Regions from separate parts of the Homo sapiens genome. Here region 1 is linked to region 2. The links come from fine-mapping of genetic effects on gene expression. Tissue or cell type: whole blood. Region 2 holds a variant in brackets; the other region holds the start of a gene. All regions are shown on one strand. Distances are from middle to middle.

What was found. PIP is the estimated chance that this variant, and not a neighbour inherited with it, causes the effect.
Region 1: RAB3IP starts here. The variant in region 2 is fine-mapped to the expression of RAB3IP in whole blood (INTERVAL, PIP above 0.99). The same link has a PIP of 0.9 or more in neutrophils.

The regions. Positions count from the first base shown.
Region 1 is chr12:69,734,822-69,743,010 of GRCh38, reverse strand. It overlaps RAB3IP (RAB3A interacting protein), which reads right to left and starts at 4,151. Exons shown (of 11, transcript NM_022456.5): 1 at 3,980-4,151. It overlaps LOC101928002 (a long non-coding RNA gene), which reads left to right and starts at 4,461. Exons shown (of 4, transcript NR_110072.2): 1 at 4,461-4,733. RefSeq lists a silencer at 3,574-4,403.
Region 2 is chr12:69,754,106-69,762,294 of GRCh38, reverse strand. It overlaps RAB3IP (RAB3A interacting protein), which reads right to left. Exons shown (of 11, transcript NM_022456.5): 2 at 6,636-6,911; 3 at 5,632-5,890. The coding sequence starts at 6,886. Among named protein-coding and RNA genes, the nearest start is that of RAB3IP, 19 kb to the right of the region's middle. RefSeq lists an enhancer at 2,181-2,772. The variant AT/T (reference allele first, on the strand shown) is at 3,303.

The DNA.
Region 1 (8,189 bases), 19 kb after region 2:
ACTGTTAACGACAAGCATCAAATCTTTCATGAACTTGAACTATTTGAATAATTTTCATTCTTTTTCCTCTAAGTAATATCAGTTTACGGCTATAGTTATCTAATTTCGTGTTGCCCTATATTCTAAGATAAATCAGATTACTTTTTCCACTTTTCTCTAACCATGACTATGTACGATGTAAGCTTATAAAACTACCTCATTTAGTGGTAAGTTGAAAAGGAAAGCAGAAGGGAAAATAGAGATAGCAAGTTAATGCTCCCAGTTGTATAAATATCTTCCTCTTCCTTCCTTTGTCCCTTCATTTCTCAATGTTCATTTCAATTTCTACTGCTAGAGCAGCTTCAAAACATCCTAACATTCTTCAACTGATCATCCATCACCAAACACAGCACAGTACTTACCTGGCCCGATGTTAAAGCTATAAAATGAGGTAAGCCCTACTCTCGAAGCACTTGTAGACTAGAGGAAGAGACCACCTTGCCAATAAACATGTTTCTAGGGCCCTAGAAACAATTACAAATACAACACAAATATCAAAGTTCATAAATACCAAAAAAGAGGTACTCAGTATTATAAAAGCATAAAATTTTTAAAAAGAGTACCATCTGGTACAACTAAGGATAGTAGCATAAAAAAGGAGAAACAAGCTAGAAAGCAGTTTACAAAAGCTCAGATATTTTGTTTTTAGGATATCAAATGCGTAGTAACCAATTTACTATCCTTTGATGAACTGCATCTTAATCAGAATTATATCGGAAAAAAGTTTAGTGTGAAAAAGCGTACTCCCTTGGAATATCTTCAAAGCTTTCCCTCATTACCTCAATGCACAAATATCTCTACCCACTATCCATCTGTCCTTCCTCTCCACTACTCAACTATCCTAGCACTTTGTCTTAGTTGACATTCATTAAAATATGTAAAGTGCGTTCTACATTTTGAAGAACTTATAAAAGATATGGGAATGATTATAAGGCCCTACCTTCCATATTCCTTAAGAACAGTTTCCTTTAACCCCTACTGTGACTTGCAGAGTAGATGCTCAATGAGTATTTGATTTAAAAAAATCTCTGGTGACACAATGAGAATTACATATTACATTAACATTACGTATCTCATAAAAGCTAAATTACAAAGTTCTTCAGCATTATAAGCTACACATAAAGAAGTGATAATGTAGTGATTATGAGCAAACAATTCTTTAGCATTACCACTTATACATGAAGAAATGACAGAGTGTAGTGGTTAAGAGCACAGACATGGAAGACAAACTGTCTGACATCTAATCTAGACCTGTCACTTAATTAACTATGTGACGTTGAGCAAACTACATAAGGTCTCAGGGTCTCAATTTTCTCAACTACAAAATAGGGATAAAGTATTATCTCCTCGCTCACTCTGAGAGTAAATGAGTATAAAGCTTACACCAGGACTTCGCTTGATAAGCACTAGACTTAAAAGTAACTGTAGTAGCAATGCTGGTATCACCGTCTTCAGAAAACTTGGATATTTTTAAACCAGAAATACAAATGGTAACACTTGTCATCTGTGTGCCTCCTTATAGTTACAAAGCTCTTTAATAGAAGGTGCAGACCAGGAATGTAAGAAACAAAAGCACTACGTTCCATTTTGGGCAGTCGGATACAGTTTTTAATACCGGCTCTGTCACTGGCCAGCTGTACGACCACCTACAACTAAGTAACCATAGACAAATTATCGCAACTTTCTAAGCCTCCATTTCCTGACTTGTAAAATTTGATAAACCACCTATATCCCGGGAATGTCCAGAGGACTGAGGAGTCAAGGTATCGAAAACAAGCACACACAGTGCCTTGCACACAATCAAGCTCACACTGGTTCCTTCTCCCCTTCCCCACATCTCTAATGGAGTATGTTATTAAATCCTCATCTTACCATTATGAAGTTCATATTAGGTTGAAACATAAAAAACAGCAGAATATTAGCAATTTCAACCTAATAGTATTTCCACTGACAAATGGAGAAAATAAGCTCAAACAGGTTAAATGTTTTACTCAAGGTTTTATGCACAGTAAGTGATGGAGCTGAACATTAAATAATTTTTCATTCAGCCAGCTCACTAATTTGTTCACTGACTCCTGTTGAGGAGGAAAAAAGTATAGTAACTACTATAATGCATATAAAACTACTGTAATCTACAAAGTATTTTTTCGTGCCATATTTAAAAAATGAGGGGGTGAAACATTTCTAAGAACCTTTCCATTTTAAAAATTATTTGTAGAGGATGTGTGTGTTGGGGGAGGATGAGAGTTTAGACAAAATCAAAGGTAAAGAATATTAAAGGAAACATATGGATAACTGCACTAATTCAAAAAGTACAATAGGATCTATTCAGAAATCCCACAAAGCAGCTAAACATTAAATGGCCATCCTGGTGAAAGATTACAAGTATTCAGTACCACAGATGAGTTGTTTACCAAACACAGAAGGAAGAGTTGTATCAAACACTTTGGTTCACAAAGGTATACATTAATATGTAACATTACTGTAATGGAAAAAAATGCAATGGCTTTTCATTTAATAGTTAAAAAATGGACTACTTAATTGTATAACTGTTTATTTCTATAAATTCCACAAGGGCTTTAGGATTAGATCACATAAGCCGCATCTGGAATACACTGTCTGTCCAAACATGAAAAGTCCTATCAAAATGCACAGTACTAGTAAATAAATAACAAATGATAACAGAACAAGGCCCCATAAAACTGGTGAAATATTTAACAGTATCAAATATTTACTACGATTGGTCTACAACCCTATTCTGCCTCTTTTCTCCTTGATTTGTCATTCAGCACTGGAAGAAAAAAAAACCTTCATGAACAACAAAATGAGAAAAAGGATAATGAACAAGAACTGGGTCTTTCAACTGATTTACAATGGAACAGTTTTGTTGTAATCCTCTTATGGGCCCCTCCTCCAATTATGCAATCATTCCACTGCAAGAGATTACAAGGCTTTTAACCCGACACTGAACGGAAGGAGTTGGGGTGAAACAGGAGAGTGTATAACAGGTAGCCTCCGAACAGGCAACATTTCCATGAAACTAAATTGCCTCTCAGTAATCAGTACTAACTAACTCAGCGCTCGTGTCTTTCAAGACCTTACCCTTTCATCTTTTTTAATCCCATAACAACCGGCAACTCTTCACATGCTGCGACTTCCACCCAGCATCATCACTTCTGGAGCCAGTAAGCTCGCGCTTCCTGGGCGGTCGGGGCGAGTTGTCAACGCTGGGAGGGCAGAGCCATGCAATCCCACCCGTGCAGTTCGTCTCAACTCCCCCGAACACAAGTCTGGCGGCACGGAGCTGCCTACTTGGGCGCGACTCCGGGCGCCTGCCCGGAATTTCCCACCAGGTTTCACCGAAACCTCCCGAGGGTGACCTCTACGCCTCAGCACGGTGCCTCGCGCGTAGTTTCCTAAGACTGGGACACGAAACCACCCCAGGTCCACAGCCCTGCCGCGCGGCGTCCGGTGTTGTGAGCTGCTTCCGACTTGTTCGGGAACTCTCTCTTCATCCTCTTCGCGACCGCGGCCCTCCGCTCCCGGCCGCGCCCGCCCGCCGCCAGGTAACCCGCTGGACTCGGGCTCCCTGCCCCGGGCGCGCGGGACCGCGCAGTTAATGTGTAACGCGCCCGTGCCCGGGGGAGGAGCCGCCGCCCGACGCCCACCAGCAGCCCAGGGGGCGGCCGGCTGACCCGGGTCGCCAAAGTCCCCCCCACACGCCGCCCCCAAGGGCCCGGAGCCCAAGTGCCCAGGCGGAGAGCGAGCTCACCGGGCCTGGGCATCCCCCCGAACCCCCGCGTGCCGCGCCCTGCACGGCGCCAGCACCTGCACCTGCCGCGGCCGCCCCTCCTGGCCGACTCGCCAGAGGCGGGCGCGCGGGCGCCGAGGGGGGCGGTGCTCTACGCTCCGGGCCTCTCCCTCCCGCGGCCGCACTCACCTGAAGAACCCACCGCGGCCGCTGCCGGCGCTCAGGGGCGCTCACAGAGCCGCAGAGAGCGCGTCCCGAAGCAGCGAGAAACGGAGGAGGACGGCGAGCCCTTTCCGCTACACTCCACGGCGGCGGGCTCACTACGCCGGCAGCCGCCGAGGGAACGCGGGACTGCGCCTGCGCCGGAAGCGGGGCCGGGGGCCGGGAGCCGGGAGCGGCCGGTCCTCACGGAGGGAGGGCGGGGTAGGGGGGTGTGGCCGGCAGGGGCGGGGCGAGCCCGGCATGGGGCCTGGGGGCGGACGCGCTTCCGCGCCCCCTGGCGCCAGGCGGGGCTCGTCGCAGGTGTCACGGCCCTGGCCCGAGGTTCCTCCGCGGGCGGTTTCCCTGGGAACCAGCGCGAGCCGGAGCTGCGCTCTGTTTCGTCGGGCCCGCGCTCTGTTTCGTCGGGCCCGCGCTCTGTTTCGCCGGGCCCGAGAGGCGGCCTCAGGTTAACTTCAAGCATGTTGGGCTCTCCAGGAGGGAGAAGAGGCACCTTTGCCGTGGGTTGAGGACTCCTAGAACCAACCTGAGACTCCGCGGCCATATACACCTTACGACGTGTGTGTGTGTGGCGGGAGATGGGAGGGGAGGAATCCTGTAGAACCCAGATCCCATCATTCCAGCAACTGCCAGAGCGTTCGAGAATGTCATGTCTGTACCTGTCTTCTCTCATCTTTTGTGCCAACTGTTTTATCAAACTTCTACCCCACTTTAGGTCTTCCAGGTAGGAAAAATACAGAAAGAGCCAAGATCCCAAAAATCAAAAAAAAATAATAATAATAGAGGTAGTCATAGTATGTGTCTCTATGTTTAGCAAAAGAGAAACGTGCATTTGTGTGATACACTTATTGAATAGGACCATCATTCTGGGTATTAATCTCATCTATTAGAGGCAGTAAAGAAAAGTAGACTATATGTATGGTTGTTGGAGTCAGAATTACTGGGCTTGAGCCTGCCACCTGCTAGCTGAGTGACCTTAGGCAAATGAATCTCTCTAGCCCCAATTTTCTCATCAGTGAATGAGTATACAGAACCTGCCTCACTGAGTCATTAAGAGTTTAAATGGCTTAATTCATGTAAACACTTTGCGTACTTCATGACACAGAGTGCCTAATAAATATTAGCTATTGTTATTATACCATTATAACTATTATCATGCATCTGTAATCCAGAAACCTAGAAAGCCAGTGTTTCTTATTTTATACCCCATCGCCAATATATCACCAAGTCTTATTCATCCTAATTTCTAAATAATTCTTAAATCTATCTTATCTGATATTCATTGCCACTAGAAATGACCTTTCTCATTAATGGATTCCTATTCTCCCTTACACCTCATAGCTGGTCATTTATTCATCAGACATTTTATTGCACTCCATCTGTGTGCCTCCTGTTAGACATAGGGACAGAGAAACCATTACAAAGTCCCCACCATCCACGGACTCAAACATATATAGGGAGACAAGTATGTCAATAGTAGCTACGTGAAATGAATAAATTAAATATACAGCAAACCACTTAGGCTCCCCAGTCTTGCCGTACTCACATACAACCCTGTATTTCCATATGCTGTTTATTTTTATGTCTTGATCTCCTACCTTTTCCTTGCCTTGCTAATTATTTGTTATTCATTATTTAGCCTAGACATCAATTCCACTGTGAACCCTTCCCTATTGTTGGCCACTCAGCCCTATCCCAGCCACTCCAGTATGGGCTAAGTGCCCCTACCAGGGCTTCCATAACACCGTATCTCTTTGTAACACTTATCACATAGAGTTATAATTGTATCTGTATTTCTCCATTTTCCTGGACTGCGAGCTTCTTGAGAACAGGCACAAGGTCTGACATGCAGTAGGACTGACTCAGTAAATGCAGAATGAGTGAATGGCATGCATGCAGAGTGCAGTCTTGGTATGTGAATGTTTAGAGGACAAGTCCTATGATATATTCTACATAAGACCTAAGACATCATGATCTATAGGAAATAGTAAGCAGTAACCATATATGCCTGAGTCCTGCGTTGGTCCATTTACAAATCACCTACCATCCATGAGGCTTTTTGAAATATACTGAAAGATGTTCCTCTTGAATACTTAACCTGTTAGCGCTGTTTGAGAAGAGTGATATAGATTGTTACCTATAATAATACTTCAGTGTTCTTGCAGCACAGAGACCAAGATACATTACAGAATATTAGACACTCAGAATCTCAGCCTACAAAGTATGTAAAGGGCTGTGAGCATCTTAAGTTTGATAGCTTACCCATATATAAAAAGGACAGCTATTTCACAAAATTTAAAAATGTGAAAGATTTGGATGGGCACGGTGGCTCATGCCTGTAATCCCAGCACTTTGGGAAGCCAAGGTGGGCAGATCCTTGAGGTAAGGAGTTCGAGACCAGCCTGGCCAACGTGGTGAATCCCCATCTCTACCAAAAAAAAAAAAAAAAATCAGCTGTGCATGGTGGCACACACCTGTAGTCCCAGCTACTTGGAAGGCTGAGGTGGGAGAATCACTTGAACCCGGGAGGCGGAGGCTGCAGTGAGCCGAAATCACGCCACTGCACTCCAGCCTGGGCGACAGAGTGACACCCTGTCTCAAAAGAACAAAACAAAAGGCCGCACGCGGTGGCTCACACCTGTAATCACAGCACTTTGGGAGGCTGAGGTGGGCAGATCACCTGAGGTCAGGAGTTCAAGACTAGTCTGGCCAACATGGTGAAACCCCATTTCTACCAAAAACATAAAAAATTAGTCGGGCATGGTGGCTGGCACCTGTAATCCCAGCTACTCGGGAGGCTGAGGCAGGAGAATCACTTGAACCTTGAATCACTTGAACTCGGGAGGCAGAGGTTGCAGTGAGCCGATCGCGCCATTGCACTCCAGCCTGGGTGACAAGAGTGAGACTCCATCTCAAAAAAAAAAAAAAAAGAGTGAAAGATTTTATAGTGTGCTCAAGGTTGCCTTTTTCTCTTTATTTTTTTCTCTTTATTTTTTAAAAATGTAAATTATACAATTAGTGTCAAATATAACGTATAAAATAATATTGCTTTTTTTTTATCTTAAGACTTTCTCATTTATACCTTGGGCCAGAAAAAAAGCAGATGAGTGCAAATATATAGACATTGTAAATTGAACAAACCATTCTAAGGTTGTTACCCTTAGTTATAACTTTTATTACTTGTTTGCCTCTGTTTTGTTTTCAGAGTTAAGAAAATGTATTTTCATGGTATTTTCCAGTTGCAAACTGACTTCATGTTAATGATTACATGAGTCTTGTACAAAAAACAATTTGATGCAGGTGGAAAGGTAGTTATTCTTCATTTTTGTGGATGGGGAGCTTAGGCCACCAGAGTTAGGGCCCTGGTGTTTGGAATGCAGGTTAATATCTTATAAACGAATGAAGTGAAAACATATTGAACTTTTGTGTCCAGTAGTATGGCAGACTAGAGGCTCTGGCTGATTCTCAAACCCAAAGCAATATATATAAATATATATAAAACATCTTATCAAGCATATCAAAGAGTTGGCAAGAATATAAGAAACCCTGAAGGGCAAAAACTAGGTGTAAGTGAGAACTCAGACTGGTAAATAGTAACAATGCAAAAATGAAATGGAAAAAAAAGACAGTTATGGGAAAAATGTACCAAAAGTAATTAATCTATCATTTCCTTGTCTGCCAAAATAGTCAGTGAGTGCCAGTGCTTGTGTTCTCATAAAAACTGACTTTTGCAACTCCTGTAAAAAAGCAGAGCAATCTCAAAAGTGTCTGTCATGATATTAATTATGGACAATCCTGTATTTCAGGCCCCCTTTCTGATGTTGGAATAAGTGACTGGGAAAAATTGGAAAGCTGAGAGAAAGGGTTTAAGAGAGAGCTTAGACTCTAAAAAGTATGATTCCCCCCTTCAAAAGAATCACTTTAACAAGCTACATATATATAACAAAACGTTTTGAGAATTGACTTTAGATCCAGTTTATCACACACACAAATTGCCATCCATCAAACAAATATTTATTTGTAGCTTCTCTGTGACAACTGTGTAAATAATTTTCAGTAAGAAGGAAGAGAAGGAGAGATGAGACACAGTGAGAGGGCTTCCTGGCCTCCCCTTACTTTTTAATTCCAGCTATCGCTCTATTACTGAGGCTTCCTTCATCCCTTCCCATAGGTTCTGTGA
Region 2 (8,189 bases):
AGCCCAATTTCCTCCTGAGAATTCCACTAAAAGCTGCTCTTCAGAAATATCCTATGGAAGGCCAAACAGCTAAATGACTACATCATAATCTCTGGCATCCCTGCACCTGAAAATAAGTGACCACATGATTGGTCCCCCTACACACACAGTATGGATTTGTTGCTGGGAAGTGGTTGTCCATCCAGGGATTACATTACCCAGCCCACCATACATCTAGGTATTGGCATGAAAGGTTCACACCAATAGAATGTGAGCAAAAGTGATGTGTATCATATCTAAGCCAAGGTTTTTTAGAAGAAGCTGTACCTTCTCTAAGCTGTCTTTCCCTTTTGTCTCATTGGTTAGATACAAATAACAATAAAACCCTAAGAAATTACAAAGGCCCCAAACAGAAGAGAAACAGATCTCTGAATTATTTCACAGAGAACTGCCTACCAACTATGAACATCTGCTTCAGAGTGTTAAATGAATAAAAATGAACTTCTATTAGGTAAAGTCACGAAAATTTGGGGGTTACTTATAAGCATCACCCTAATATATCAGGCATGTGTGTATACAAACACTTGTATAACCGCATATACATGTATATATTCATTTAATCAACAAAATGTATTGAAAACCCATTATATGCTCAAGATATAATCATGAGCACAAACATATGCAATCCTTATCCTCATGAATCTCAGAAGTACTGAAGCATGTGTGTATAAATGCAGGTTTTTCTATGTGGATTACTTGAATGGGGTAGACAATGAAGTAATATAAATGAGTAAGTAGAACTTTCACTTCCAATTAAGATAGAGGAACAGGGATTAGATTTACCACCCATCTGACACAACTAAAACTCTGAAAAAATATATGGATCAACAATTTGAAGCATTTGATATTAGGCAATAAAAGACAGTGATCCCCTAGAAATGAAAAACAAAATGTGCACCCCAGATCTGCCCCAGCTTATTATCTGAAGAGATGAAATAATTAGAAACAAAACATTTATTAAACTGCATCCCAACATATTAAGCAGAGCAAGCAAAGTATAAAAAAGATCCAAATCAAACTTTCAGAGATGAAAACTACAATGTCTAGTTTAAAAACATACTGTATGGGATTAACAGATTAGATATTTCAGAAGAAAAGAGTAGTGACTTTGAAGACATAGCAATAGAAACTACCCACAATGAAACACAGTGAGGAAAAAAAGATTTTTAAATGAAAGACTGTAACACCAGCAAGCTGTGAGATAAGTTTAAGCAGTCTAATGTACATGTAATAGGAATCCAGAGGAAAGGAGAGAGAGAGGAAGAATGGAAAACTTTTTGAAGATATAAAGGCCAAAATTTCCCAAATTTTATGAAAACTAACAACCTACAGCTTCAAGAAGCTCAATAAATCCCAAACATAAGAAAGCTGAAGAAACTACACCAAAGCAAATCACAATCACATTGCTTATGCCAGTGAGAGAGGACTCTCATAAGCAGCCAGAGAGAAAAGACCTAATACGCAGAGGAACAAAGGTAAGGGTAACAGCAGACTTCTTGTGAGAAACAATGTACATGCTTGAAAACACTGAAGCAACATCTTTACAGTAACAAAAAAAAAAAAATTATCAATCTTAAATTCTTTACTCAGTGAAAATATCTTTCAAAAACCAAAAATGAACACAGACATACAAAAGCTAAAAGAATTTATCACCATCAAACATGCACAACAAAAATGTAAAAGGATGTCCTTCAAGCCAAAGGAAAAATGATACGAGTTGGAAATCTGGATCCACATGAAGAAATGAATACCAAAGGAATGAACACACAGAGCAAGTCCCCAAACGGATCCTGAGCAAGAGGAGAGTTGGAGGCTCTCCCTCTCCCTCTCCCTCTCCCCACAGTCTCCCTCTCCCTCTCCCCACGGTCTCCCTCGCCCTCTCTTTCCACGGTCTCCCTCTGATGCCGAGCCAAAGCTGGACTGTACTGCTGCCATCTTGGCTCACTGCAACCTCCCTGCCTGATTCTCCTGCCTCAGCCTGCCGAGTGCCTGCTATTGCAGGCGCACGCCGCCACGCCTGACTGGTTTTCGTATTTTTTTGGTGGAGACGGGGTTTCGCTGTGTTGGCCGGGCTGGTCTCCAGCTCCTAACCGTGAGTGATCCGCCAGCCTCGGCCTCCCGAGGTGCCGGGATTGCAGACGGAGTCTCATTCACTCAGGGCTCAATGTTGCCCAGGCTGGAGTGCAGTGGCATGATCTCGGCTAGCTACAACCTCCACCTCCCAGCCGCCTGCCTTGGCCTCCCAAAGTGACGAGATTGCAGCCTCTGCCCGGCCGCCACCCCGTCTGGGAAGTGAGGAGCGTCTCTGCCCGGCCACCCATCGTCTGAGATGTGGGGAGCGCCTCTGTCCAGCCGCGACCCCGTCTGGGAGGTGAGGAGCGTCTCTGCCCGGCAGCCCCGTCTGAGAAGTGAGGAGCCCCTCCGCCCGGCAGCCGCCCCGTCCGGGAGGGAGGTGGGAGGTCAGCCCCCGCCCGGCCAGCCGCCCCATCCGGGAGGGAGGTGGGGGGTCAGCCCCCGCCCGGCAGCCGCCCCGTCCGGGAGGGAGGTGGGGGGTCAGCCCCTGCCCGGCCAGCCGCCCCGTCCGGGAGGTGGGGGTTCAGCCCCCGCCCAGCCAGCCGCCCCGTCCAGGAGGGAGGTGGGGGGCGCCTCCGCCCGGCCGCCGCCCCGTCCGGGAGGTCGGAGGCGCCTCTGCCCGGCCGCCCCTTCTGGGAAGTGAGGAGCTCCTCTGCCCGGCCACCACCCCGTCTGGGAGGTGTACCCAACAGCTCATTGAGAACGGGCCATGATGACGATGGCGGTTTTGTGGAATAGAAAAGGGGGAAAGGTGGGGAAAAGATAGAGAAATCAGATTGTTGCTGTGTCTGTGTAGAAAGAAGTAGACATAGGAGACTTCATTTTGTTCTGTACTAAGAAAAATTCTTCTGCCTTGGGATGCTGTTGATCTATGACCTTACCCCCAACCCTGTGCTCTCTGAAACATGTGCTGTGTCCACTCAGGGTTAAATGGATTAAGGGCGGTGCAAGATGTGCTTTGTTAAACAGATGCTTGAAGGCAGCACGCTCGTTAAGAGTCATCACCACTCCCTAATCTCAAGTACCCAGGGACACAAACACTGCGGAAGGCCGCAGGGTCCTCTGCCTAGGAAAACCAGAGACCTTTGTTCACTTGTTTATCTGCTGACCTTCCCTCCACTATTGTCCTATGACCCTGCCAAATCCCCCTCTGCGAGAAACACCCAAGAATGATCAATTAAAAAAAAAAA[AT/T]CTTAGAAGTGACCAGAAGGAGGAAGAAAACCAATTATCTACAAAGGAATGACAACTACATTGACAGCTGGCTTCTCATCAACAATGATAGATGCCGGAAGACAAAGACGTAAAATTATGAAAGTGTTTGTTGAGAAAAAAAAAAACAACCATCAACCTAGAATTGTATGCCCCGTTAAACTATCATTCAAAAATAAAAGTAAAACTTGTAAAAAAAAAAAAAAAAAAAAAAAAAGGAATGAACACACAGATGCCCATGTAGCTAACATTTCTGATGTTTATCTATGTAAAGATTCTTTGTTATTATTTAAGTCTCTTTAAAAGATAATACTGTTTAATGCAAAACAATAGTGTTTTGTGGGGTTTAAACACACAAAGAAGTGAAACATACAACAATTATTGCACAAAAACTAGGAGGGGAAAAATAAAAGTATACTTTTGTAAGGTTTGTACACCAGATGTAAAGTAATATATCACCGGAAGGTAGAGAGTGATAAGTTAAATATGTCTACTATAAACGCTAAAGCAACAAAGATAAAAGCCACAGGAAGATGAAATTGTTTTAAAAATACAGAATTAATTCAAAAGAAAGGATACAAAAGGGAAAAAGGAACAAATGAGACAAACAGAAAACAAACAGTAAGATGGTAAATTTAAACCAAACTATACCATTATCCATTAAATGTAAATGGTCTAAACACCAATTAAAAGACAGAGATAATTACAAAGGATCAAAAGAACAAGACCTAACTGTACACTATCTATAAGAAACTCGTATTAAATAGGAAGACACAGTTAACCAAGTAAGTAAAAAGTATAGAAAATGGCCTCTCTTAAGATAAGACTAAAGAAAATGGCTGTTGACATAGTTTGATTCACAAGTTGTCACAATTCAGGAAGTATTTTTATATTCAAGAGTCCTTTTCAAGCCTTGAGATCTAAGTAAATATTAATACTAACTTATACTCTTCATAAAAGTCACCACATATGTGTTTACACATCACCATTTCAATTATCCAAACAGTATCTCTAAATACAGCATATTAGAGATTTCAAAGGAAATTCTCAAGTGAGCTAAGAAATTAGCAATCTGTTCTGATCAATAACCATGTGTTCTCAAAGATGGATACATATACTCAAAATTTTACCTCTATATAATGTGTGATTTTAATAAAATACTATCTATTAAGACAACAAAGTCTGAGCCAGATGACAGAAACAAAATGCAACCACATCTCACCACATCCTTTTCCTTTGGGAAGGAACTGGGGATTAAAAAAATGAATATACTACGCTCATGAGAGACAAGTATGCTAGGGAAAGAGTGGGAATACATTTGTGAAATGTCATGGTAGGTTGGATATTACACCTATAAATGTTTGCCCTACCTTCTCAATTTTCTACATGTGAATTGGTATTTCACCTAGGTTGTCAGGTTTATATATGCAGTTTTTCATATCATTCCATTATACTTTTGATATGAGTCTCCAGTGACATCCTGCATTTCACTCCTGCTACTGATAAATCTGTCTTCTTTTTGTCAGTCTTGCTAGAGGTTTGCAATTTTATTAATCTTCTTAAAGAACCAACATTTTGTCTCACTCATTTTCTCTATTTTTTCTGTTATCAATTTCATTGATTTTTGCTCTTTATTATTTCCTTCCTTCTACTTGCTCTGGTTTTATTTTGCTCTTCTTTTTACAGATTCTTAAAGTGGGAGCTTAGATTGTCCATTTGAGACTTTTCCTGTTTTCTGATGTATGCATTTCATTCTATAAATTTTCCTCTGAAATTTAACTGCAGACTCAGAAAAAGAATAAGATATGGCCACAAGTTTGGAAATAAATAGCAGAAACTTTTAAAATGACCAAATGGGAAACACAACAATTTACCAAGAAAATTCTCCAAGGTAAGATACAGAAAATATTCAAACTCAGCTTAAACTCAAAACAAAATGACTTAGACTGAGTGACTTCAAGTAAATAACCATTTAGTCAGCCATGTAGTAAGAAGGAAAAACCCTGCATGTGGAATATAGCCCACTCAATCTGCATTACAGATAATACGAGACAGGGAGCAGGCAATGCAGTGGGGCACAGAAGAGTTAACAGAGCCACATTTTTCCAGTTAGTAGTCTTAGAGGAACTTCTTTACTACCCAACCAGTTTCACGGATTCCTAAATGCTGCCTAACAGGAGCTGAGGCTGGGCATATGTGACGGATAAATGTACAACCATCATGATTTCATTTCTGCAGGTTGCCCCACCCCATGGAGAAATACTAATTTCTAATATAATATATGGAAGAATAAAATATCTTCTTTCTTACCCTCTGAGCTTTTGCGAGTTCTTCTTTTAATCGTTCATAGCCCTTTTCTCTAACTTCCAAAACAGATGGGCTTCGTAAACGAGACAGACTATCAGTACTCAACCCAAAAATATCATCACTGCCATCGCAAGCCTCTGTTATAGTAGCACCCTGTAAAAACTCTCTCTCTGCATTATAGTTGTCCTTTCTTGTAGTTAATTTAGTTAATCCAGCTGTGACTCCAGAGGTAGAGCAAGGGGCTGGGTCTGTAACATGAAAGCTGTAAAGGAGAGAGACATTTTTCAGAAAATATCAGCATATGCTCCAATAGAACTGGCTTAAACACACAGCTCTAGAACTGTACTACCCAATTTGGTAGCTTCTATATTTAAATAAATAGTATGTCCTCAGTCATATCAGCCACATTTCAAGTGCTCAATAGCTACATGTGGTTAATACCTATCATTCATATTAGATAGCACAGAAATAGAACATTTTCATCAACACAGAAAGTTCTACAGGACAGTGCTACTCAAGAGCAGGGGTTAACAAACTATAGCCTACAGGCTAAACCAAGCCTTCCACCCGTTTTTATAAGGTATCAATGAGCCAAGTATAGTTTTTACAATTTCAAATAGTTGAAAAGAAATCTTTAAAAGAATATTTTGTGACACATGAAAATTAAATGAAATTCAAAATTCTGCATCCATATATGAAGTTTTATTGGAACACAACCACTCTCATTCATTTACATACTGTCTATGGCTGCTTTCAAACTCTAAAGGCAGAGTTGAATAGTTGCAACAGAGACTGCATGGCTTGCAAAGCCTAAAATATTTACTATCTGGTCCTTCACATATAAAGTTTGTCAACCCTGTTCTAGAACATTATCAGGTCATGTATTTCTTTACCTAGGCACACTTAAGTTATTCAAATTTTCTAAAAATAGTAAAACTTAAAATATAGTAACTAAGCAAACTGTCCATTTTAAAAAAAATCAAATAAGTGATTTACTTATTTCCTACCTGATACTAGATATTTCCGCACAATTTAAACGTCTGGGGGATGAATACACGGGTTGTGTAGGAAGTTCAGAAACATCTAATGCATTTGCCTGGATAGGTACAGAGGATAAAGCTGAAGGGTGTGGCCGGTAGATGACACTTGGTGAGGTAGTCTGCTCTTGAGTTCCTGATTCATACACACCAAGAAGGTCCGGAGAAGTAGGTGAAGCAAGGTTTACTTCATGGAAGCCTTCCAAGGGATCATTAGCCATAGCAAAAGCCTCATCATAAGATAACCTATGTTAAAACAAAAAGCAGATACTTATTTTTAGATAATAACATTTAAAACTAAATTAAAATGCATAAATTATAAAATGTGTTTAACAGTCCATTGTAAATTATAAGCTTACAATAAAAGAGGCTTTTTTTAAAAAACCACAATCACATGGTGGTATATGCCTGTAGTACCAGCTACTCGGGAAGATGAGGTGGGAGGATTGCTTGAGCCCAAATGCAGGTTGCAGTGAGCCGTGATCACAACCCTGCACTCCAGCCTGGGTGACAGGGCAAGACCTTCTCCCACTCAAAAAACAAAAACAAAAACAAAACACCACAATCACTTAACATTTACTAAGCGATCTCACAGTATAACTACTACAAAAGGCAAACAATCTGATTTAGAAGAAACCTGAAAGTGATAAGCAATGCTGTTAAAGTGAGAATAATCAATTAGTATGAGGAATGAATAAAAATTGGCTTAATTTTTAAAAATATTTTAAAATTATTAAATGTTCATATTAAAATAAATTATCTCAGTATACTATTTAAATATGAAAATACTAAAAACAAAATCTAACAGTATTATGCAATCTTAGACTCAATAACAATTATATTATGCTGTGAAACTCTTAAAACAATTTTTTTAACAGAGAACATTGTATTTATCATGTACAACATGTTTGAAGGCACATACACATTGTGAAATAGCTAACTAGCTAATTAACGAATGCGTTACCTCATGCCATTATTTTGTTATGAGAAAACTCAACATTTACTCTCTGCATTTTTCAAGAATTTACAATATATCGTCAGGAACTACAGTCATCCTGCTGTACCATAGATCTCTTGAATTTATATTTAACTTTCTGATTATACATGACCTTGGTTAGAGTAAGTAGAAAGGCGGTAAAGACACACACATACTCTCTCATACCTGTCACCCAGATTATGAAATTGTTAATATTTTTGAGTCATTTAAGAATGTTTCAGACATGATGCCCACTTAATATCTCAATGTATACATATACACAGTGTGTGTGTGTGTGTGTGTGTGTGTGCCCGTGTATCTGTGTATGTGTGTGTGTATCCTAAGTACAAGGACATTCTATCTAACCACAAAATCATCATCAAAATCTGGAAGTTAACATTGATTAAAATTACCATCTAATCAACAGGCCCCATTCAAATTTCACTAATTGTTCCAATAATATCCTTTATATGTACAGGATCCAATCCTGGATAATGTGTTTCATTTCTATAAGCCTTAAATTTCTCCTCTGATGAGATTAGAATGGG